5 separate regions of the Homo sapiens genome follow, and regions 1, 2, 3 and 4 are each linked to region 5. Evidence: fine-mapped expression QTL. A gene starts in region 5. Each other region holds a variant in brackets. All regions are shown on one strand. Distances are from middle to middle.

The links. PIP is the estimated chance that this variant, and not a neighbour inherited with it, causes the effect.
Region 1: its variant is the best candidate, but not a certain one, in a credible set for the expression of PTPRE in whole blood (TOPMed, PIP 0.51).
Region 2: its variant is the best candidate, but not a certain one, in a credible set for the expression of PTPRE in whole blood (INTERVAL, PIP 0.78).
Region 3: its variant is the best candidate, but not a certain one, in a credible set for the expression of PTPRE in whole blood (TOPMed, PIP 0.63).
Region 4: its variant is the best candidate, but not a certain one, in a credible set for the expression of PTPRE in thyroid (GTEx, PIP 0.52).

Annotation. Positions count from the first base shown.
Region 1 is chr10:128,072,904-128,078,008 of GRCh38, reverse strand. It overlaps PTPRE (protein tyrosine phosphatase receptor type E), which reads right to left. Exons shown (of 21, transcript NM_006504.6): 17 at 4,538-4,672; 18 at 1,281-1,406; 19 at 226-392. Among named protein-coding and RNA genes, the nearest start is that of AS-PTPRE, 13 kb to the right of the region's middle. RefSeq lists an enhancer at 1-116. The variant T/C (reference allele first, on the strand shown) is at 3,027.
Region 2 is chr10:128,046,472-128,051,576 of GRCh38, reverse strand. PTPRE (protein tyrosine phosphatase receptor type E) reads right to left here. Exons shown (of 21, transcript NM_006504.6): 4 at 4,088-4,187; 5 at 3,740-3,813; 6 at 1,911-2,047. Among named protein-coding and RNA genes, the nearest start is that of AS-PTPRE, 13 kb to the left of the region's middle. RefSeq lists enhancers at 3,789-3,838, 4,139-4,208. The variant A/T (reference allele first, on the strand shown) is at 2,698.
Region 3 is chr10:128,117,323-128,122,427 of GRCh38, reverse strand. It overlaps MKI67 (marker of proliferation Ki-67), which reads left to right. Exons shown (of 15, transcript NM_002417.5): 5 at 3,109-3,175. Among named protein-coding and RNA genes, the nearest start is that of MKI67, 6.5 kb to the left of the region's middle. The variant A/G (reference allele first, on the strand shown) is at 3,132.
Region 4 is chr10:128,091,352-128,096,456 of GRCh38, reverse strand. No RefSeq gene overlaps it. Among named protein-coding and RNA genes, the nearest start is that of AS-PTPRE, 31 kb to the right of the region's middle. RefSeq lists enhancers at 4,069-4,568, 4,569-5,070. The variant G/A (reference allele first, on the strand shown) is at 2,561.
Region 5 is chr10:127,905,109-127,910,213 of GRCh38, reverse strand. It overlaps PTPRE (protein tyrosine phosphatase receptor type E), which reads right to left and starts at 3,111. Exons shown (of 21, transcript NM_006504.6): 1 at 2,905-3,111. RefSeq lists a silencer at 3,148-3,267.

The sequences.
Region 1 (5,105 bases), 170 kb before region 5:
TGCATTTATGTTAAGATGACACACATGCATCTTATGTATGATACGATGACATGTATGTACTTAAGTGAAGTCGTGTGTGCATGTGTGTAAGGAGAGGTAGAGAGGAGACTCTAGGGAATACCATGGCCAGGGGCAGCGACCAGGCTCTGCTGCCCACAGCTGCGGGTACTGGGGGGGTGCAGCCTGTGTCCACCCCACCTGGAGGGCTTCGGGCTGGGGGCTCACCTGCAGTGCACGGTGATGGGGTGGTTGCCTGTCTGCTGCTGCTGCTTCTGCACGGCTGCGATGAGGTCAATCATGCCTTTGCCCTCGGCGGGAATCCCGATCTCAGGCCAGCCGTGGAAGTGAAACTGGCGCACTACTCGGACCTGCTCCTCCTGGCGGGCCTGGGGCTGCAGGGAGGAGAGGGGGTCTCAGCGTCGCCTGCCTGCCGGGGAACAGGCCCCAGCCCCATCTGCCCTCTCAGGGATTGGCCAAGGCTGGGAGCCCTCCCTGAGCCTTCTGTGCTGCCAACATCCCCACCGAGGCAGCCTGAAGGAGAAGGCTGAAACCTGCTTGTCCTAAAGAAGAAGGCAGGTGGCTGGCTGTGCTTCCTTCTGCAAGGGGGAGCGAGCCGTCCAGAGGACATCCCCTGGATCCCTGTGAGGACTGCCCAACCCCTACGGGATCCTTGGCAGCTCTGCTGGAGAGAAGGGAATCACTTTCTCAAGAAACCAGGGCCCTGCATTTCCCTTCAGAGCTCAAATGAGCAGCATCTGAGTCTGGTGGCCAGGGTGGCTCTGTGGCTGGCATGGAGGAGACAGTGGCAGGTGCATTACGTGATACTGACTGTTTGGAGCTCAGCATCAAGACCTGTGTACAAGTGAGTCATCCTACCTACAGCTGACCCCGAGTTCTCATTCTTTGCCAAGGAGAGAGGATGAGCAGAACCAAGGACCCAGTGGAAATGGGGACAGTTGGGGGGCTCTGAGAAGGCACCTGGAGGAGGGCCCCAGAGAGGCCCCTGTGGCTTCATTAGTCCCCTTTGTTCTTCCTCTTACAGCTAATGGCTAATGTAATTCTCCTGAGAGATAAATGGGAGGTAGGCAGCTAGGGAGATGGGAATTGTACAGGAGGCCTGCCACTGTCTCTGAAACCCATTGGCCATTCATAGCCAATGGGACTAGGTGAAGGAGCAGGACAGGTGCAGGGCCACATTCTGGTTCAATGACAAGCAGAACCCAGAGGGAGGGCGTGGTTCACTAAATTCACAAGCGTTTAAAGAGCTACTTCAACAATACCTGATTGAGAGTGACCAGAAAGTCTCGTATACTGATGGCTTCTGAAAGGGTATCATTCTTTATCTCAATCGTTATTTCTCCATGAGTAACTGAGCCCTCGGTTGGCCAATACTGGTAGCATTTATCCTTAGGGGATAAAATAAAAATTTAAGTCTTGTAATAAATAATTTGCTGCTGGCGATTTTGAGTTTATAACACAGAATTGTTCTCAAACCAGTTAATGTATTTCATCTGACCAAAAAAAAAAACATATGAATATGAATATAAATGCCTGTTAATGCTTGTTGACCCAGGGAACAGAACAGAGTCTAGAAACAGACACATATATATATGAAACCTTAACATATGGCAGAAAGGAGAGATTCTTCAATATGTGGGGCTGGAAAAATTGGTTTTCTACCTGGGGAAAATGAAATTGGATCCCTGACTCATTCCCTACCAGGGTTGATGTGAGTGCCCCCAGCTCTTCCTAGAACTGGGCAGTGTACACCCTGCACTTCCACGTGTCATGGCCTTGAACCTTAATAAAAATACACCCAGATGGAGTAAGGTTTAAGGTAAAAAACAAAACTGTGAAACTCTTGGAAGAAGAAATATCTTTTCACTTTGAGGTACACAAGGATTACTAGACAAGAGCCCAAACAGCTAACCAATCACGATGCAACAATTTGAAACATTGGATTACAGTAACATTCACTTCTCTTCATCAACAAACATCATTAACAGAGTGAAAAGACACGCCACAGATTGCAATAAGATGTTTGCAATACATAAAACCAATAAAGAATTAGTATCAAGATTACGTAAAGAGCTCCTATAAATCAATAAGAAAGGACAAACAATAGAAAAATCAGTGAAAGGCAGGAACAGGCATTTGACACAAGAGGAAATATGTCATCCACAAATATATGAAGTGATGGGGTTGACCTTGGAATCAGAATGATGCAAATCAGAGCCACAAAAAGATAGTATTTATACAATAATTATACAATGAACAATATTTTGTTAATTTTCAATTAACAATAATTAGGACACCTTGAGAATACCATACTAGGTATGTAGATGAATGATATCTCTTATACATTGTTGATGTCCACTTTGGAAAGCAATTAGGAATTATCTTGCAAATTCAAACTTTCACATACTCTTCAATGAAGCATTTTGGCTCTTTGATACATCTTAGTCCTAGTGCAGCATAAGACATGTACAAGAATATACAGGTAGGGAGAACACAAGGACACAGGGAGGGGAACAACACACACTGGGGCCAGTTGGGGGGTGGAGGGTGAGGGGAGGGAGAGCATTAGGACAAATAGCTAATGCATACAGGGCTTAAAACCTAGATGATGGGTTGACAGGTGCAGCAAACTACCATGCACATGTATACCTATGTAACAAAACTATACATTCTGCACTTGTCTCCAGAACTTAAAGTTTTAAAAAAAGAATGTACAGGTAGCACTGTTTGTAAAACAACGAAATGAAACCAACTCAAGTGCCCATGACAGGAGAAGGAATACCTGAGCTAATGCAGGATATAGTTTGTGCAGTGGAATATAATGAAATAATGATGACGAATGAACCACAGCATAAGCATCAACATAGAATATCAAAAGCACAATTTTGAGTGGAAGAAGCAAGTCTCAGAAGACAACATGCTGTAATGATGCTCTTTCTATAAAGTTCAAACACAAGTAAAACTAAACAACAGTCTACGTAGGCATAAACAGATGTGATTTTAAAAGA[T/C]GTTTTAAAAAAGCAAAGAACATATCCACTAGGATGGCTTTAATCAAAAAGACAATGACAATGTTGGTGAGGATGTGGAGAAATTAGAACCTTATATATTGCTGGTAGGAATGTAAAATGGGGCAGCTACTGAGGAAAACAGTCTGGCAGGTCCTCAAAAATGTTAAACAGTAAGTTTATGACATAGAGTTATGACGTGACCTAGCAATTCCGCTCCTAGTATATACACTCCTAGGCGTATACCCAAGGGAAGTGAAAAAGCATGTCCATACAAAAACTACTACCTGAATGTTCAAGAAACTTTTTTTTTTTTTTTGAGACAGAGTCTTGTTCTGTCCCCCAGGCTGGAGTGCAATGGCGCGATCTCAGCTCAATGCAACCTCTGCCTCCCAGGTTCAAGCGATTCTCCCTGCCTCAGCCTCCCAAGTAGCTGGGATTGCAGGTTCCCGCCACCATGCCCAGCTAATTTTTGTATTTTTAGTAGAAGCGGGGTTTTGCCATGTTGGCCAGGCTGGCCGCGAACTCCTGACCTCAGGTGATCTGCCCGCCTTGGACTCCCAAAGGGCTGGGATTACAGGTGTGAGCAACCGCACCAAGCAAAGCAGCACTATTTATAATAGCTCCAAAGTGGAAACAACCTAAATGTCCATCAACTGATGAATGGATATGCAGAGTGTAGTATATCCACACAAGCAAATACTATTTGCCAGTAAAAAAGAATGATTTACTGATTCATGCTACAACATAGATGAACCTTGAAAGCATGATGCTAAGTGAAAGAACCCAATCACGGAAGACCACATACTGTATGATTCCATTTATAATAATGTCCAGAATAGACAAACCCATAGTCAGGAAGCAGATTAGTGGTTGCCAGGGGTTAGGGGAAGGAAGGAATGGGGAGTGACTGTTAATGGTACGAGGTTTCCTTTTGGGTTGATGAAAATGATCACAGATTAGATAGTGGTGGTGGTTGCACAACTCTGTGAATATACTCCAATTCACTGAATTGTACCCTTTAAAAAGATGAATTGCATGAATTATAGGTGAATTATATCACAATAAAGCTGTTCCTTTTTAGAGCAAAGAAATAAAAACACAAATACACAGCAGTAGTTATGTCTTGGGGGAGAACCCAGATAGATGTACATTGTTGGTAAACCTTGGGTTTACTGTTGTCTTCATGTCTTGAAAAAAGTCAATAAATGTCTTTTTCTTCAACAGGTTATGATCTTGGCCAATACCAAATGGCAGAATTTCAGGGCAGGTTAAATAACATGTAGGCTAAGGATAAAGGGCAGCGGGTAGCTATGGTTAAACCTCACTCCCAAAAAGGGAAAGGGTGAAATGAAACCTTTTTCATTTCCAATCTCTCTCCTTCCCTAGTGGTCCTGGCTTGGTCTCACCCATGTGTTTGCAGTGATGGCAGGTGGGACATTTGTAATGAACGGGGACAGTGCCTCAGGTGCACAGGCTGCCCTGGAGGGACCGGGCTGGGCGGCACTCCTCACCTGCTCTCTCTCCTGCACCTCCGTCAGCATCACGATAGTGTGGGATTTCCATTCCCAGATCATCCTCCAGAAGTCCTCAACCGTGTGTGCCAGTGGCCCCTGGGTGGCGATGAAATAGTCCTTCTGTCGGTAGCCCTTCAAATGGAGGCGCAGAGGTTAGAGTCTGACTTCCTTCCATCCTGGCTCCATTACCTGCTCCCTAAGTTTAGGACAGCCTAAGGCCTAATGAGGAAAACTCTCTCATCCTCCATGGTCTGCACCAGACCCCAGTTGGCACGAGCACTCAGGCACACACCTGACAAGCAGGTCAAGAAGCTCGCTTATCTGAAACCATAACGGCCACCGTCAGCCCCTGAGGTCATCAACAAATGGGTATTATGAACTGGTAGTTGCCTGTGGCCACCTGAACAGCACCTGGTGGCTTAGATTCTAACATGTTTCTGTGTGTTTCAGCTAGATCAGCATGGAGCCCACCGGATTCTGGTACAATTTTCTCATCTGCAAATGGCAATATGAACACACACTTGGCTGCCATTCCCCCTTTTGCCCTTCTTCTGCGAACTCCACT
Region 2 (5,105 bases), 140 kb before region 5:
ATGACCAAAATATGAAACTTTTAACTAATGGCAGGATGAGTAGCTGTGTGGTGACAAGCCGTATGTATCAGGGCCCAGGGCAACAGGGAAAATCAGTCGGCCCAAGCCTGTCTTCCTTTATGGTCGTGTTATTTTCTTCACCAGGGACTGCCTGTATTCATTTTGATATTGTATTTGTTACCTTTCCTGTGGTGCTGATAATTTTGATATTTTAAGTGTTATGTTAAAATATAATTTATCCCACTGCTGAGCTTTTGGTGCTGTCTTAAATTATGTGCCTGGGGTGAGTGTCTCACCTGCCCCACCCTATTCCTGGACTCCCTCCCTGGGAGTGGCCCCCTCTTTTGAGCTGGTTCTGACTCAGACACCCCCATCAGCAAGCCCAGCCCCTGTCACTTGGGGAAACAAAAGTGCAAGGGGAAATGGGATGAGAAGGGTGGGGGAGGGGATCTGCTAGCTGAAAACTTGGATAGTTATTTTGAAAATGAGAATTAAGGTCTGTTGTCAGGCTGAGAGATTGCAACACAATAGTGCTTCAAGCTGTCTTTCAATATGACCTAATTTCTCCAAAAAAGGGGACACATTTGGAAACAATAAAAAGGAAGTAAGATAAAGGCAGAGGAGGCTTGCACCAAAAAACAAGCAATGTACAGTTTACATGGGCCACCACCTTCCCATGCCTTCACACGTTGCTTCTGGGTAAAGTCTCATTTCTGCAGCAGAATTCATGCCATCTTCAGATATAACAACTGCACAACACTGTTGTTTACAAAATCCATTGTCTGAGCCTCCCATTCCAACTTCAAGGTAATTAAGACAGGCCCATCTCCATTGCCCCTTCCTAGGTGGTGGAAGACAGCTTCAAGGAAATTAACTGATGTGCCAGGGCCAGCACGCAACAGGCATAGCCAGGACCAGTTAGCAATCCTGCTGAAAATCTATCCTCTTTAAGATCAACACTTAGCACAGCCACATGCAAGAAGGTGAAGATGCATAAAATTCAAAACACGACCAAGGATAAATACTGAATAGCAAAATCCAAGACAATACTTCCTCATATCTGTTTGTCTACTTCTCTATCTGCCCATCCATCCATCCATCCATCCATCTGCCCTCCCACTCATCCATCCATCATCCATCCACCCATCCATCCATCCATCCATCTGCCCTCCCACTCATCCATCCATATGCCCTCCCACTCCATCCATCCATCCATCCATCCATCCATCCATCCATCCATCCATCCGCCCTCCCACTCATCCATCCATCCATGCATTCATTCATCCATCCATCTGCCCTCCCACTCATCCATCCATCATCCATCCATCCATCCATCCACCCATCCATCCATCCATCCCTCTGCCCTCCCACTTATCCATCCATCCACCCACCCACCCACCCATGTTGATACACAAGCAGATATAGCTAGTGTTCTCTCAAGGCAGCTCACAGCTGCTTCATTAATGCCGAGATGGTGGTTCAGAAGAGGAACATCGCCTACTCTGATTAGGTGCTCCAGCTCTCAGAAGCCATGAAAGGATGGTTTGGGGCTCTGTTACTTTCCCCATGATATTGTCATACCGTGCCGCGCTCAGGTCCTAGCCTTCTGTGTTATCGAGATAACAGTGTTTCTGCCACAGTTGATTTTAGAACTTGACACTCAGAGTGGGGAGGTGTAAGGAGGCTTCACAAACCTCTAACTCAACTGTCTCATCTTATAAATGAGGAAATAAGCATTGGCAAAGGGCACTGCACCACACACCAGGTTTCCTCACACGCCCATTCATGGGACAGTGTCATAACTGATGCAAGGGTTCTGAGTCTTTGGGATAATTCATCCTGAACTCTAACACTGGATTTCACAGGTCTCCACCACAGGGCACCCAGCAGAGAGCCCTCCCCACACTCACGTTGAACTCCTCCCGAAACTGCTTGCAGTCGTCGGCGGATCTGATACGGATCTCCTCCTCCAGGTGCTCCACGGGGATGGGAAAATACTTCTTGGGCCCTGAGGGTGACCTGCTGAGCAGCATCACCCTTTGCTGCTCTGTGGGATCAAAAGAAACATGGGGGCCATTTAGCCACATTCCTGGATAGGCGACTGAGTAACCAAGCTGACCAACGACATTCCTGAAGAAATGACCAGGCTGGAGCTGGAACAGTTCTCTCAAATCGCATAGCTGGGCTAAGCCGGGTCCCGAGCAGCTGTATCCAAACACTCGCCTCCTGTGAGGCATCCACATCATTTACAAGTGACGGGCGTCCCTCTGCCCAGTGTCACCTGCTCTCCCCCATTGGAGACAGCCTGTCCCCCTCCCGAGGCCACTCATCCACCCACCCTCCCACCTCTCCTTCCCTCCAGCCCCTGCTCCTTCCAAAAAGGATTCAAGACGGCCTCACTCTCCAGCTCAGCTTTCCAGGTTTGGAAATAAGAAAGAGTAATTACGGCTTCTGGGAGCAAACTCAGAACGTTCTCTCTCAGCCTTTTCTTCTTCATAACAAATATTCCTGGTTCCTCAAACCCCATAAGCTCCAAGGGAAAACCACCCTTGTCTGGGGAGGGTGACAAGGGGCATTGAGAAGGAGAAGTACGCGTTATAAGGGAGTTCTTGGACACATTCCTTCCCCAAGTTCGGAGTGAGAGGCAAGAACAGTTATGGACATGTCTTTCTCTTCCTGGAGAATGAGCTGATATTG[A/T]CAAGGTCAACATGATAACCCAGCTGTCACACTTGCAAAAGGGCCTGTCCCCACCTGCAGAGCCATTCTGAAGCCCAGCCAAAAACTTCACCCAAGACTCATTCCTCCAAGTGACAGATGGGATCAGAATGAGTGATGCTGAGCTTCCCTGCTACTCACTAGCCGCACCCTCCTCCCTTCCGTTCCTGCTATTGAAACATTCAGGGCAGGGAACCGGGGACTGGAACGAGGGCAGGAAGACAGCACCTGGTGCCACATTATCGTCTAACCAGGTCTCGGGTCCCGCGAGCGCTGGGAGGCTACATTTCAGCTGGGTCCTTGTTGGTGATATTCTTTTAATGATCTAAGGGTCCGTTTTAAGAGTCTATTTTAGTCTGACGGCACGTGTGTTCCCCCAAACCATAGAACTGACTACAGTTAGGTAGGAAGCTGACTCCAGGAAGTTGTAGTCACTGGGGTGTGAAGCAATATTTTTGTGGCCTCTGCCTTACACACGTTTCTCGGTCATCTCATCTCTATGTATGGAGAGAAAAACAATGTTCCTTTGTAAGTAGCGACAACAAGTTCGAAACTGTACTTCGGATGGAAAAGTTGGAAATGCTCCCAGCTGACTCTGATGCTCTGTAAACATGAAGCACTTCAGGAGAGCGAGTCTCTTTTTCCAGCTGGATCCTAAAGCAGTACAAACCCAGCTGAATAGTTTCTGAGCCAGACAGTCTTATCTGAGAATGATTGTAAGGCCTCACTGAAAAGTGTTACATGTCAACACCCTGTGAAAACGACAGGATATGAACAGTCTCTCTAAAAAAAGCCACAAACAAAAATGTCTCAAACGTCCATGTCACACCCGAGAGAAAAATGATCCTTAAAGTTTTGAAATAGTGAAATTCTAAATGACAGCATCATACCAGGTAGAGTGAGATGAAAGTGGCAAGGCACACCTCAAAATTTACTTTGAACGTTAAAGGCAGAAAGCACCTCAGTGTCTGCTAAAAAAGAACACATTTTCCCCCAAGCCCCAGCCAGAGAGCAGCTTCTGTACCTTGCTCCTCCAAGATTCCGTTGGGCATCTTCTTGTCGCTGGTGCTGACCACAGCTTTCCTCTGCTTCCTGAACCTTAGAGACACAGGATGCGTTAGGTTTCCACACTTCTAGGTTCCCCGAGAGCCAACAGCGCTCGGCACAGTGATACCCACCAGGTGAGCCGGGAAAAGCTACTCCTGTTGCTCATGGCTGAGCCGCGCTAAGGCCTGGCCTCTGTGTGTCTCCCAGGCCCAGCCACCCAGCCTCTCAGCTGCCCTCTGCTGCACAGCCCACGCCCACAGCATCAGAAGGCTCATTTCCTCCTCTGAGCTGGTTGGGGCAAGTCAGTGCCCCGGGACACTCCTACCTGAAGAAGTAGGCGGCGAGAAGGAGCACGAGGAGGAGGAGCAGCAGCGGCAGTAGCAGCCAGGCCAGCAGCGGCTGGGAGGCGCCCGGGTCCGGAGGGCCTGCAGGAGAAGCAGAAAGACCCTAACCCCTGACCTCACTTCACAGTTTGCAAAAGAGTCTCCCTCCATAAGCCCTTCTTCCTGGACACCAGAACCCCAAACTATATTTTGTAAAGTGGATCCATCATCCTGAAAAGGCCCCACGAGGTAACAGAGAAGCGACTTTAGTTGTTGCTGTTGACTCAGAGAAAGAATCCGGGACTGAGGAGTGGGTGAGGTGACTTGTCCAAAATCCCTGGGGCAGGCATGACAGGGGTGAGTTCCCCAGACCCCCACACGGCCTGGCTGCCTGGCTCTCCTGCTAAGAAGCTGGAGAAGGGTGAAGGGGCCGGTGTCCACTGCAGGGTCCTAGGACAGCGCGGGAGGCTGACTCGGCGTAGCTCAGCTCTTAGGGCCCCTTGGGCTTGGGCAGGAGCTCAGGCACAGGGAGGCGGCCTGGCCCTGGGGCTGGGCAGAGGCCTGTGGCCCTGGCGCACTGTGACCCCACCTTTCAGAGCCTCCAGGTCCCGATTCCACCTGTCAGAGGCCGAGTGCCCAGCCACCACCGGCCTCTTACTGTGTCCTTTGTACCTGACAGGTTGACCTTCCTCACCCAGAAAGAGACCCACAGCCCCAGGCCCAGCTAAGTGGCTTTGTTGCTGCTCAGGACCCACCCCTGGCTCATCAGCCCAAATTCCAAGGGACACTGGTGGCCTCGCTGCCACCTTTGGACCCCACCCACTCTCCCAACGTCGCACTTTGTTCCTGCTCCTCCCCCGCTGGCCACACAGCCCCCTCATCACCAAAATGTTCCCACTCCTCGAGGACAATCTCAAAGGCCCCCACCTCCAAGAAGCCCACTGGACTCCTCTCTTGTGGACCCAGAGGGGCCCTGGATGCCTCAAAGCGCAAACCTCGCTCTGCCATGAGTGAACAGGC
Region 3 (5,105 bases), 210 kb before region 5:
TACCTTAGGATGTAACTGTATTTGGAAAGAGGGCATTTAAAAAGGCAATGAAGGCTTTTTGAGCTATTAGTATGGGCCCTAATCTGATGATTGGTGTCATTATAAGTGGAGATTAGGGAACACGTGCACAGAGGAAAGCCCATGAGAAGAGGCAGCAAGAAGGCAGCCATCTTCAAGTCAAGGAGAGAGGCACAGAGAAATCCAATCCAGCTGACACCTTGCTCTTGGACTTCCAGCCTCCAGCACTGAGAAGGGCATGTCTGTTTTTCAAGGCATTCAGTCTGTGGGACTTTATTATGGTGGCCCTAGCAGACTAATACATCCTCAGCTCATATAGAACATTTCCAGAAGCTTTTTAAAAATGCTGTTGTCTAATCACTACTTCATTCCCTCAGCAAGTAAACCACCGTTTTGGCTTTTAGGATATCATAAACGTCTCGAGTTTCACTACCTAAGCATGGATCTCTGAACACGATAGTTTTGTCTGTTCTTATAAAAGTCCTTAACAGTGATACAAGAATGTATACATTTGTGCCTGGCTTGTGCTTTTCTGTGTGTGAGATTCATAGCATGTTGGACATCTCTGTAGTTTGTTCCTTCTCATGGCATAAGTATTTCACTGAAAAAAAAATGTTTAATATATACAATAATATACATAACTATACAGAATTCATTCATTCTTGATGGACATTTGACTAATGTCTAGTCTTTGAAATGTGTCAAGGTTTGCTTTATGAGCAGATATGGCTAATTATCTTACTAATCTGCCTTGTGTAATTGAAAACTGTATTCTACAGTGTCTCATATATATGTAATATATAATTATTATATATATCACTTATATAATATATAATTATAATATATTATATATAATCATATATAATTATAATATAATATATAATATTATATAGTATATACTATATGTTATATAGTAATATATAATATAATAATATATATTATATATACCATATAGTATATACTGTATACAGTATATACTATATGGTATATATAATACATATACAATATATATACAATATATTTATATTATATAATATATAATATATACATATATAATATGTAATATATATACACATATACAGATACACACACTCCCGTTAGATTCAAATCTATAATCTTAGTAAATTTTCCCCTACTATTATTCTAAGAGATATGTTCAAATCACCTACTGAGGATTGATTGATTGATTTGTTTTTATCTCTATCAGTTTTTGCTTTGTATATTTTGAGGCTGTACTATGGTGTACAAACTTAGAATGATGTCTTGGTGCATGGAACTCTGTCATTTAGAGATGTCCTCTGTTTTTAGTAGTGCTTTCTTTTCTGCTTAATGTTTCCTTTGGATGATGAGTATGGTTAAACTAATTTCCTTTTGATGAGTGCTTGTGTAGTATAACTTTTCCACCCCCTTAATTTTAACTTTTCATAATTGTTATGGTTTAAGTTGTCTCTTGGAACCTGTTGTCAGGTGACCTCTTGTGTTTAACTGGAATATCTTCTTGCTGGATTGATCCTTATATAAAATGTCCTTTTTCTCTATGAATAACTTTTGTCTGAGATGATTTTGTCTCATGTTAGTACAGTACTCCAGTTCCCCTCTGCTTGCTGTTTGCATGGTATATCTTTTCCCATGCTTTTATTTTAAAAGATTGTGTCTTTGAATCAAAATTGCGTCTCTTGTAGACAACGTATTAGTTGGGTCATTTAAAAATCCATTCTGCTAAATGAATCTCTGTTATTGTCTTCATTTGTATTAGCTGTTTTTTAATGCACCACTTAAATTCCCTAGTCATTTCTTTTACTGTGCTTCTGGGAAGTTTGCCTTCATTTTTAAAGAGTATTTTTATTGAATACAGACTTCTATGTAGGAAGTTTTTCTTTTTTTCTTTTTCTTTTTGTTTGTTTGTTTGTTTGTTTTTGAGACAGAGTCTTGCTCTGTCACCCAGGCTGGAGTGCAGTGGTGTGATCTTGGCTCACTGCAACCTCCGCCTCCCGGGTTCAAGTGATTCTCATGCCTCAGCCTACCAAGTAGCTGGGATTACAGGCACGCGCCACAACACCCGGCTAATTTTTGCAATTTTTAGTAGAGACGGCGTTTCACCATGATGGCCAGGCTGGTCTTGAACTCTTGGTCTCAAGTGATCCACCTGCTTCAGCCTCCCAAAATGCTGAGATTACAGGCATGAGCCACTGCGCCCGGCCTATAGGTAGGAAGCTTTTGATGTTTATTGGAGGGCTGAACTATTTTTCAAAACAAGATATTATCCAAATTGAGATAAATTCAGATGATTAAAGACATCCAACAAAGATTTGAAAGTGAATCTTAGAAAGAGAGACTTGATTCCAAACTCTCTACCATGAGAAATAATATCAGATGTGTGACTGCTTCAGATCTTACTTAGGTTGCCTATAAATTCAAATCAGGTCATTTCACTGAGGCCAAAAGTTTTCATTATGCAAAATAAAGGATTGCTTCTATGACTTGATCACTGAGGTTTGCCAGGACAATTATGTATCTTGCTAAAGGTGATCTTCTTAAGATGTACCTGTCTTGTTCAGATACAGACTGAATGTGTGGGAAACTGAAGTGATCATAGTGTTCTAAAATATAGGTTTGTAGTTACCCTGTAGTGTAAGTGTAGCTTTTTATTTACCCTGAAGTATGTAACTTCACAACGTGAGAAAGATTCAGTTACCTACAGGCTTCCTGGCTGGCCTTCCAAGCCATCCGATGATTTCCATGGACTTAAACTAGAAGAAACTTGACTTTGCTCTCATGTGCATTAGCTTATGTCATAGAAGGTGCTTGGTAATATTGTCAAATCATACCTGGGCTGTTCGTCAGTGATCAGAAGTTAATCTGGGTCCCCAGCCTCTGACAGTGGTATTTCAAAACAAACTCGATGCAACTAATCCTAGTTTTTAGTGTAAAAGCACTTTTCTAACTCTAAATTTATTTCTTTGTATAAGGTGATGTCTTGAACTAAACCCAAAGTTTGTTCGTTGATCCTTGGACATTAAGTGGATATGGAGACTTCCGCCCCAGGGTATAAATTTTTAATCAGGATCTTTGTCGTTCTATAAACTGCAGGTATGAAAATGAAAGTCTTCAGA[A/G]TGGAAGGAAGTCAACTGAATTTCCAAGAAAAATACGTGAACAGGTGATAGAAAATATCCAAGTTTGGGCTGATTCGTTTCGATGATATGAAATCATTTATGTATGCTTTAATGATTTCTTACTTGAAATCAGTTACAAAGAGGGTGGTTACTGTTATAGTAGGAAAATGTAACTAAAGTATAAAAACGAGTTGAACTTAGACGTATTAAAATAATCTAAAATGATATTTCCTCTTTATTGTTCAAAATCAGAGCACTAAGTTGGTCTTACACTTTTAGCCAAAAAGTCTATTAGAGCATGTTGCGAGCTTTTTGCAAACCCATGATTAGGATAACCCCAACACGTAGAGCTAACATTTGGGAATTGCATTATCTGGTGGCTCATTTTGTCGCCCAGTCATTGTACTCATCCGTCTTTATGTGTCTGAAATAATCACATTATGAAAATCATGAGTGCCAAAGATGCTTCTCTATTTTGATAGATAGACGACCCATGAAACAGGAAAAGGGATCCTGTGCTTTGTCTTGTGAGAGAATCCTATAGTTTGAGTGTATCAGTGTGGAACAGGTATTCCAATTGTACAGCTTATGAAAACATAATTGTCGACACGTGCTTCGCAATTTAGATAGTTTGAGTATATCAGTGTGGAAGAGGTATTTTAGTTGTACAGCTTATTAAAACACAGTTGTCGGCATGTGCTTGGAAATTTAGTGGGATTTAGGCTTAGGATGAGCCCTGAGAATTCATATTTTTCCTACATTTTAGAGTGCTCCTAAAGCTAGTTTCAGATGAGCTCCTTGGAATATCTTGGCTTAGGAGAGTTATCTTAGGTGCACCTGAAATTAGCAGTAGGTACTCTTGAATTTCAACATTTCTGCCTTTTTTTTTTTTTTTTTTTCTGAGACGGAGTCTCACTCCGTCACCCAGGCTGGAGTGCAGTGGTGCGATCTTGGCTCACTGCAACCTCCGCCTCCTGGGTTCAAGCAATTCTCCTGCCTCAGCCTCCCGAGTAGCTGGGACTACAGGTGCACACCACCATGCCTGGCTAATTTTTGTATTTTTAGTAGAGACAGGGTTTCACCATATTGACCAGGCTGGTCTTGAACTCCTAACCTCGTGATCCACCCACCTGGGCCTCCCAAAGTGCTGGGATTACAGGCTTGAGCCACCATGCCCAGTCCATTTCTGCCATTTAAGTACTGCCTTCTTCCCTAGAGGAGCAGCCTTAATGTTGAATCTGATGGTCATCAGTTCCCGTGCTGGAAGCCAGTTTCTGAGGCATCCCACACTGTAGCCACCAGGCAACTTGCTAGTCTATGGGAGTAAATAAACCAAAAAGCCAGTTGAACTGTGGGTTAGATATGTGCCACTCAGCAGTCTAGGAACTGTTTGTTCTGTTACTGGTCTGTGATATAGTGAGTACTGAAATGGAGTATGTAGTAAATATGACAGCAATTCGACAGCAATTTTGTGGCTATTGAATGTAATCGTACAACAAAAGTGAGATTATATACTTTACATATTCATAATTTTATTAGTGGTTCATTTATATTGTTTAGTCATAAGATTCTTGTTCCACTTCAGATTGGAAATAAAAAACCATCCCTCACATAGATAGTTTTAGAAGCAAGGTGTTACGTATCAAGAAACCTAAAATTGATTAAGGAAGTTAGATTCTTTGCCTTTGTTAATATTTTTTAGATATTTTCTTAATAATCCAGATGATAAGCTTTTCTTCCTTTGGGGCATCAGACTTTTATAAAAGTTATATATATATGTTATTCTTTAGTTCTTCCACCCTTCCGGAAATAATTCCATATGAAGGAAAGTTAGGGCGCTGTCTCTGGGGAGCCAGGTGGGGGCGCTGCGCCTGCTCCCAGGCTGTGAGGTTGCAGAATCTGTGAATATACCATGTGTGCCTGTACCATGAATTTACCTAGGGTGAATCTAGGCTCTCAGATCCACCCTAAGTA
Region 4 (5,105 bases), 190 kb before region 5:
CTACCTGCAACCGCAGCTGTGCCTGCTTTGTTGCAACAGAGGTGCTGAGTTGAGGGATGGGGATTTGACCCAGGGCTGCCCCAAGTCAGCAGATGAAAATACATGCCCTGACTTTCCTCTGGCAACCCTGATTTGACATGGATCCCGGGAGTGAATTTGCTGGCAAGTTCCAGGGGCAGTAGCCTGCGGTAGGTCAGTTAGTCCTGAAGAAGAGGCCTTTCTGTCGGAGAGAAAAGTTTGCAGGTGGGTGCATCTACCATCTTGAGAGGCTGAGGAGGGAGGGAGAGCCGTGCTCGGTGGTCAGTCTGGTGAAGGAAGTGGGTTCAGTCTGCAGCCCACATCCTGGGCTGTCATCAAGAATTAACATGGCAAACGGCGACTCCATAAAGTAAACTGTAGCTACTTAACTAAATGATTTCGTGTGGCTGAGATCCTACTGTTTGCTGGGTTTCCTGGAAAAGTCCTCTAGATGAACTGCAGGAATCTCCTGGCACTCTGGTTACAGCTGGAGAAACTGATTTCTGTGCTGTCCAGGTGCTCCCAGACCCCCAAGGCATCTCCAGGACACAGTCACCAAACCCCCATCCTGGTATTACTGGCATTGAGTGCCACGTAGGCACACAGCACTCCATAATTTGGAAATGTGGATTTCATTGCTATTGCTCTTCATGAGGGAACAAATAATACCCATGATGTATTGGCAGGAAGCCACGCCCCCCCTCCCCCGCTGCCACCCCCACAGCGCGCACAGTGATTTCAGGAAGGAGGTTTGATTGGTTTGTTGTGTGTTGCCCTGCAAGGGCCCCAATCAGCTTCCTGCTCATCAGCCCCATCTCAGGCAAGTCCCACATCTGTGATGTCAAGCCCTGAGCCGGGTAATTGGACTTGGATACCTGCTTGACTCATCTTTCCAGTGAGGTTCCTAAGGAGCATCCCCAACCCCACCTCCCAGGGGGAGCTCTCGATGTCACCTGAAGAACAAACAAACAAAAACTGTGTTGATGGTACAGTCCCAGGGCTCCGTGACTGGACAGGCTCCCTGCGTGATACACCTGTGTATGTCACTACAGAAATACAGCTGGTGCAGGCCTGTCCGCCTCTCTCACAGGTCAGAGTGTTCTAAAATCCATCCTGGCCCTTGTTGTCTGTCTGCTTGGGGTTAGGGCAGGTGCTCCTTTATCATTTGTAAAGTTTATGTGATGTCTGGTATGTGTTCCACACCCTTGCAGAGTGTAAATTCCTAGAGAGAGTTCAGACTTCGGAGTCAAATGCACAGGTGCAAATTCCAGCTTGTCTAATTTGCTGCTGTGTGAACGTGGACAGTCTTTCAACTTTGCTAGTTTCCCATCTGTAAAATGAGGCTGTTCAGTACCTGAGCACATAGCATTGTTGAGAAGATTAAATGAGACAATATGTGTAAAACACTTAGCATTTTACCCAGAGCTTGGTAAGCATCAATACATGCTAATTATCATCATCATCAGAAGATGAATATATTTATTAGATGCCTAAAACTCCAAGATATTTCCCTTGGCTCATAAATTCTTTATCACTAGGGATTTCTCTATGGAAGTGAAGGAAGAATCTGGAACGTAACAGGCCTGAATAACCAGGGGCAGTGGCTCACACCTGTAATCCCAGCACATTGGGAGGCCAAGGCTGGAGGATCGCTTGAGGCCAGGAGTTCAAGATCAGCCTGGGCAACATAGCGAGACCCCATCTCTACAAAAAAAAAAAAAAAAGAAAAAAGAAAAGAAAAAATTAGCGGGCATTGTGGCACATACCTGTAGTCCCAGCTACTTGGGAGGCTGATGTGGGAGGACTGCTTGAGCTCAGGAGTTCAAGGCTGCAGTGAGCTATGATTGTATCACTGCACTCCAGCTTGGTCAACAGAGCAAGACCCTGTCTCAAAAAAGAAAAATAAAAATCCTGAATAATATGTCTATGTCTTCATCGAGCCCACGTATTGAAAACTACCCAAACCACCAACAATGCAAAGAAACATTATTTAACTAAGAGTCGAGTAACCAAATTTCAGGGTTATCCAAACTGAATATGGCCTCTGCAGGAGAAAAGAATATGTGTGATGTGGCAGCCACAATCTGATACCATATTAACACTGTCTTTTATTTTTTTTTTTTTGAGACGGTCTCACTCTGTTGCACAGGTTGGAGTGTAGTGGCACAATCTTGGCTCACTGCAACCTCTGCCTTCAAGGTTCAAGAGATTCTCCTGCCTCAGCCTCTGAGGAGCTGGGATTACAGGCATGCACCACACATACCTGGCTAATATTTGTAATTTTTTTTTTAGGAGAGACAGGGTTTCACCATGTTGGCCAGGCTGGTCTCAAACTCCAGACCTCAGGTGATCCAGCCACCTTGGCCTCCCAAAGTGTTGAGATTACAGGCGTGAGCCACCATGCCCAGTCAACAGTGTCTTTAAATGACATCAGATCGCAGAACTTTGCTGAGCTTGGCCCAGACACAGGTCTGGCTAAAACAGGTGGTGCTGGGACCAGGCATGGCCAGGACATAGGGAAGCACATCCCTGCATAGAAAAG[G/A]TTCTGTGGATTTTAATCCAGGTCAGCAATTAGCAAACTTTTTCTGTCAAGGACCAGGCAGTAAATATGGCGGCTTCGTGGGCCATACTGTCTGTTATGCTGACTCACCTCTGCTGTTAAAGAACAGAAGCGGCTGTAGGCAACACGCAAGCAAACAGGCATGTCCAAAAAATGGCTAATAAAAACAGGCTGTGGGGCTGGGCACGGTGGCTCACGCCTGTAATCCCAGCACTTTGGGAGGCTGAGGCGGGTGGATCACTTGAGGCCAGGAGTTCGAGACCAGCCTGGTCAACATGGCGAAACCCAGTTTCTACTAAAAATACAAAAATTAGCCAGGTGTGGTGGTGGGCCCCTGAAATCCCAGCTACTCAGAAGACTGAGGCAGGAGAATTGCTTGAACCAGGGAGGCGGAGGGTGCAGTCAGCTGAGATCCAGCCCACTGTACTCCAGCCTGGGTGACAGAGTGAGATTCCATCTTAAGCAAAACAAAACAAAACAAAACAAGCAAGAAAACAACAACAACAACAAAAACCAGGCTGTGGGCCCATTTTGACTGAGGACCTTGGTTTGCATATCCCTGATCTAGAGAAATGAGTGATTTAACATATATGCCTCCTAGGACATATCACATTGAAATTAGCAGCCCTTGCAATATAACGGGTCATGAGCAGAGGGTGCATTTCACTTTGGGCTTTGGGGTCTTCCCGGGCCCTGGAACCCCCACCGGCTCCCAGCCCCAGGACGTTGGAAGCTGAGAGGCCTGGCTTCCAATCCCAGCCCTGTCCCTTGCTCGCTGCATGACTTGGGCCCATTGCTTGGCCTTTCTGAGCCTCAGTTTCCCTAGCTGGGAGAGTGAAGATGGCAATTTCTTGCCTCGTAGGGTTGTGAGGACAAAAGAAGAAAACTCGGGTGGATTGTGTAGCCTGGCCCCCATTCTCAGAAGGTCTCCAAGCGGTGCCGTCTTCCTCTTATCCCAGCGTGGCCTCAGCCTTCGAGAGGCCTAGAACTCTGGGAAAGGAGCAGTCAGGACTGGACACGACTCCAGGCTTTTCTTATTTCTTGTGTGGGGTCTGGAAAAGGAGAAGTGCAATTATATCCAAGGCCCCTCTTGGGCAGGGGTCTCAGATCCAGGCCAGGCTGATATGAGCAAGGGGAGGCGGGTCAGGCCAGGCAGCACTGTCAATTTTGATGTTGGGAGGGAGGAGGGGCATGACTGTGTATCAGCAAATTCCTAAATTTCCACCCTGGCTCGGGAGATGCAGCTTGTGCTGAAGTGAGTCACTTATTCCTGGGCCCCTCATCTGCCTGCTTGCTTCCATGTCCCCTAGAGCCAAAAACAACTATAGGAGCAACTTAGGGGAAAAGTTACCTATATTTATATATAAGCGTATGTATTTATATATAAATATGATAACTATAGATATAATCTAATATATTGTGTATAATATAAATTAAATATATTTAATGTAATGTATATAACTTAAGTATATTATATATTCATAACTATATAAAATATATAAATATACTAAATATTATTCACTAGGTTTTCATCATTGGCAACCTAAGTTCTATATAAATATATAAATATTATCTATGAAAATTTATACACAAATATGTATATAAAATGTTATAAATATATACATACATATTTAAGTAAAAATAATATATACATAAAATATATTATATGTTTATATAGATTTAGGTTGGCAATGATAAAAACTTAATGAAGAATTTTTAGTGTAATAAAAACTAGTCTCGTGGTAGCTCTTTGTGTTTCAGAATCCAGCTATTTGGCTCTGGGCCCGCCCTCTGTTACTCCGAGAAAGCACTGCTTTGGAGGTAACACAACGCTAGGTGGCCCCTGAGGCTCCCTGAGCACCGTCCGATACCCCTCTCAGAAGCACCTCTGCCCCCTCCTCTGTACAGCCCGCTTTGCTCGCCTGCCTCTTCCTTTGGATTCCAGGTTGGTCGGGGAAGCAATGGGCCATGTGTGTGCACCGTCTGTGCCTGCCTTCACCCACACGAGCCTGTTGGAAGACGACAGCCATATGGAAGACCGCTGAGCTACCCCGGCCCCCCAGCCCAGGCTAGTTGGGGTTACCCAACTACCAGCCAATCCCCAGACGTGAATGTGAATAAGCCCAGCCAGCATCACAGAGCTGCCTCGTCAATGTCTAGCTGACCCCAGATGCCACCTAAACAATTTGGGTTTCTCACGGCAGTTCTCTTCCCAACCTCTGTTCCCCTGGGTTCCTAAGAACTAAGGGTTGTGCCCACCAATCAAAGCAAGAGGGAAACGGGCCTTGGATTTTAAGGCGTTGCACTGCTGTGACTTGAAAAGGGATATGGTTTAAAATCATTCATTTAGGCCGGGCATGGTGGCTCACGCCTGTAATCCCAGCACTTTGGGAGGCCGAGGCAGGTGGATCATGAGGTCAAGAGATCGAGACCATCCTGGCCAACATGGTGAAACCCTGTCTCTACTAAAAATACGAAAATTAGCTGGGTGTGGTGGCTGGTGCCTGTAGTCCCGGCTACTCAGGAG
Region 5 (5,105 bases):
AAGAAAGCCAAAAGAAAAACTAGAGATGTTCTTAGAACTGTAGTTTTCTTCCCAAGTGATATTCAAATATTAAGAAGGCCAGTCTTTACCCTAATGGATACATTCATTCCTGCTTTGGCAACAGAACTTCTGTGAGGGTGACTCAAATGTTATAAATGAAAAAGACTTGTCTAGCAAGGGAATACGGGGCAGCTTCGATCCTGTTCCCTCCCTGCTCCCAAGCCTGCCTCCCTGGGAGGTCACTTGGGGTGTCTCTGGTCCAAGCCAGCAGTCATTTTAGCAGGTGAGTCCAGCATCTCCAGAAGGGCTGGCCACATGAGCCCTGGATGGACCATGCCCATCCACATCGGCAAAAATGTGTGGCTGCCTATCAACCATACAACATCCACGCAACAGACACACACTTGCTCCATCAGCACATGCGCTTCGGGAAGGTCTCACTTCCAAGTTGTTTATCCATGGACAGTAGTCCTCAAGGCTCCACTGGTAGGCACATGGCTGGGCACTGGAGATACAGTATTGCCCTCTCTTCACAGAAACTATAGTCTGGCATACATTTCAGAAGCAACATGGAGGCTGGTGGAATTGGATGGATAAAGACAACACTGGGAAAGTACTGGAAGGGGAGGGGAGATCACAAGTTTGATTTTGACGCATTGAGTCAAGGGGCATTTGATATCCCAGGGAGAAATGTCAAGTGGGCAGCTGCGGAGGAGAACTACAGAGGAGTGGCCGGGCCTAGAAACACACCTCTGGCCTTCAGGGAGGGAATATTGATCAGCGGTGCACCTTAGACTAGGCTAATGGTGGTGCAGATGGAGCACAGTGGACCCACTGAGGCACAGCTGGGAGAAGCATACTTTCACCAGTTGAAACTGATGCATCTACCATCACCCCCACTGTGAATGCATCTTCTCTTGGGGTTTGGGGGCAAGATTTGCACACACAGCCACCTCTCTTCTCAGGGGCAAGGATGTACACACACAGCCGCATCTACTCTCAGGGGCAATGGTTTGCACACACGCATCCCTGGAGAAGAGGGGGCTCCCATCAGGGCACAGTGCTTCAGGACCTCCTCCAGGCTTCCGTGGAGGTGGCGGTGCTGACACAGGGAGCGCATCTCTCTCTGCCAGCTGTCCCCCACAGAAATGAGAGGTGGCCTCTGTGTGACTTTCCGCATTGTCCTCACTTTGTGTCCACACAGGGCCTCCAAGAAGCATCACACGTAAAGACAATAACACCCTCATCGACTTCCCTCAACTGGTTTGACTGGAACTGATGAGGGAGTGTGTGACTAAGTCCCAAGCCATCTGGACACATCCAGTGACCTGACCTTTTACAGAGACAAATCTAGCTCCTAGCTCTTGTCCACATGGGAACGGTCTGTTGGGGCAGGGAGGGGGCGGTGGTGACTCACAGGCATCACCAACATCAATGAACAAAAATCTTGGCCCCCAAGGTCAGATTCAGGGGCAGAGCCTTGTCTGGGAAGGGCTGGGTGGTACGTCAGGCCTCTCTCACTGACAGCGCAGCCCCCACCTCTTGGGCCTGCTCCACCTCGCCTCTGACCTTTTGCTCCCCAAATGCCAAGAGCCTGTGCTTGGAAAGTACAGACCCTAACCCTGTTCACACCACAGAGCTCTGCCCATACCATGCTGGCTGAGTGACCGTGGTGGTCAGACGCTTGCCCCAGCCACTGGCCCCCACCATTTCATGCCCTCCTCTGGCCATTATCCCAGTTTTGGAAACGACCCTCCACACCCCCCCTCCCCACCCACATACACACAGTTTAAATGGACAAGAGTCGTTAGTGTGCAGAGGCAGAACTTCATCCATCTTTGGGACACAAAGACCTCCAGACGCCCTGGGTCAAGGGGTACCTGGGGCCAAATGCAGAGCTGACTGGACATGGACACAGTAATTTCTGTATCACGTGATCACTCTTTGCTGGTGTTCATTCAACTCACCTATACGCTCATTCACTCTAAAATACAAGCAGAGAGCTGTATTCTTTCTTTGAGTTTCCTGGATTGAAACTCTGATGGAATGGTCACGACTCAAGACAAACCAATATCATAATTCTGCAAGTATAATTGCCTAATCTTTCTGGAAAGGTTTGCATGCCTGGAAGGAATTTAGGTCAGGTCCAGCGCGGTCTCCATCCGGCTTGGCTCTGCCTCCCCATCCTGTGGGTTGCCCGGCCTTCCCCAGATGGTCCCGGGAGCTCTCAGAATTGGCACCGCGCTCGCATCTGTGCTCAGGAGCCCTGTGAGGTCGTCGACCCTGCAAATCGCGGCAGTCCAGCCTGGACCACCTGCCAGGGTCTCCCTGCCGCATCTCCGACCCCCGGCGGCTGCTGCATCCCGCTCCACCTGCCTCCCTGGGAAGGCGCGGGCGCCCGCCCGGCTGCGGGGCAGCATCCTGGCAGAGCGCCGGCCCCTCCCAGAGTTGGCACAACTCGAGCCACTTTCTTCAAAGGCTCCAGCCTCCAGCCTCGAGTGGGCGCAGCCCCCCACGCGCGGCCTGCACCCCCTCTCTGTGTCGCCCGCTTTCACGTACGCCGCCCTGCCGCCGGCCCCCGCGCACTGTAGCCACCCGCAGACACGCGCGCCCTCCTCCTGTTTACCGAGAGGGAGCGTGAGCACTGCCACTGTGGTCGCCAAGTTGGGCTGGGGACTCCGGGTGAGGGGACGCGCCACAGGCCGGGGTCGGGGGTCGTACGGGCCCCAGCCGCTGGTACTGGGCGCGCCGCGGGGGCGGCGGGGCCGGGGTCCGGACTCTGAGCCCCGGAGCGGCCCCTCCCTCCCGCGGCAGCGGCCGAGGCAGCGCCCCGGCCTGCTTGGGCCTCCCGGGGTGCACAGTTCCCCACAGGGGCGCAGGGTCCCTGTCCGCACGCGCGCTCACCTCGGGGGGGCCGGTCTGGTCGCGCAGATCGCGCTGCAGCGGAGGCTCCGCATCTCCCGGGCGCCTGCCCGCCGCCCTCCGGGGCGCCCGGCTGTCTTCGCCGGGCGCGAAGAAGGGTCGCGGGGACGCGCAGAGGCCGTGGGTTCCTGAAGCCGCTCGCGCCGGCTCCTGCCGCCCGCTGTCCGCAGCCTAGCAGGAAATTTGTCCGGCCGGCCGCGTCCCGCCGCCGCCTCGGCTCCAGCTCCGGCTGTGGCTCCGCGGCGGGGGCGGGGGCCTGGGCGCTGCGAGGAGCGGGGGCGACGCCTGGTGCCCGGCGCGGGGAGCGCATCCAGGGCGCCCGCCCCACCTGCGAGGCGGGTATGGCCCTGAGGCCCTGCGGCCCTGCCCTGGGAGCACCCAGACACTGTGGGCATCCGTTTACTCAAGGCTGGTGCCCCTTCCGGGGAGGCCTGGTCCAGCCACTCCGCCGGGACCCAGGTGCGTAGACAGAGGGTCAGGGTATGGCAGGCACTCACACCTGGTGGAGAGCAAAGGCAAGGCCCTGCCTCTCCCTGCCCTATCCCTGTGCACCAGGAAGTGGCCTGACTAGGGACTCGCCCTGGTCTTGCAGCAGGTGTGGGACACGCAGGGCACCCCGTGCGCTTCTGGTGCGAGGAAGCTGGGAGAGCTGTGAGGTCGCTGGGCCTGGTGGCCTCCTCTGGAAAGAGGAGGGGATAAGGCGCCTGTCTGGGGGATGTAGAAGAGGGCTCGCTTGTCCCGAAGGCAGTATCTGTCAAAGTTAAAAACGCACAAAGAGAAAGAAGAGCGACAGAGCCAGGCACTGGGCCTGCTGTCTAGCCGACTTCTTCCAGGGAATTTCACTCAAGCTATTTAGGGAGCTTTCAGAGAAAAGGCAGTTCCCTGGAAGGAGCAGAAAAGACACTGGTGGCATGTTGGTTCTGAACCTTTGTGCCGTGCCCTCTGGATGGGGCCACGGCCCAGCCCTCATGAGGGAAGCTGCATTCTGTGGTAGGGACCCAGCTCATTAGGCTTATGAATGAATGAATGGATGGGGAGAAAGTGGCACTTACGGTGTGTTACCCCACGTTGCACCGATTGCCAGCCGACGACTCTTAGCATACTTAAGGCCTGTTTAGACAGAGCTACGGACCCCAAAGGCTGCAGAGCAATGGGTGCCTCCTGGCAGAGGCCACCCCCACGTGATTTGCCCAGAGTGGGACTTCCCCTCCACAGGGGCCGGAGAGCTGCGAAACCAGTGGAGAACTTGAGCTCCACCTCCCTGCCCTGCCCTGCCCATTTCTGTCCCTGGGGGCCTTGTCTAGCCCCAAAGCTTTAAACACCATCCGTATGGGAATGACTCTAAGCAGCACCACTCTGGGGCCCTCTCCTCCAAGCTCAGCTCCTCCTGGCTGTCTCCTGCTGTCTCAGACCTGCCTCTTGCTCTTACTTAGTTTCTCTGCAGTCGTCCCTGTCCCTGCCTCCGTGTCCCACCTCAAGTCCACCTCCCAGAGGGCCCAAGTCCACTTCCCACTGGCTTCTCCATGCATCTTGCCCTTTCATCTCACTGCCTGCGCCCCTCCAAAACCTGCAGTGGCTCCCCAGCTTCTGACCCACTCTCCCAGATGATCCATTCTTCACACTTGGTCCCAGGCACCTCACAAAGTGTAAACCGGGTCCTGCTAGCCCCCTGCTTAAAAGCCTCCAGGAATATTAAAACCCAAACTCCCACGAGGCTCTGCCTGACTTCCCTGGCTGCTCTGAGCCTCTCACCCCTGCCCGCTGGGCTCCAATCACGGCTCCTTTCTCTCAGTGCCAGAGCCAAGCTCCTTCCTGCCTGGGACTCCTCCAACCAGTGCACCTGGTTCCTTCTTACTGGTGGCTTCTGGAAGATCGCCCTGCATCCATCTCTTCTGCCACTCTCTTCCACATCCTCCATCACAGTTTGGAATTATTTGTGGGTTTATTGGCTCCTTTTGTGTCTGTCGTGCCCTCTTCCCCTACCCCCAGGGCTGTAAGCTCCAGCAGCCTAGGCTCTGTTGATCTCCATGGCTTCTCAGACTCAAGCTCCTAAAGCAACGTCAGTAGCCAGGAGGTGCTCAGTGAAGGCGTCTGGGCTGTCAGAGCAGAGGAGGATGGGCCCCAGCCAGCAGCAGCAGACAGCCTGGTCACCTCGGAGCCCAGCAGGGCGGGTGGCTCCCTCC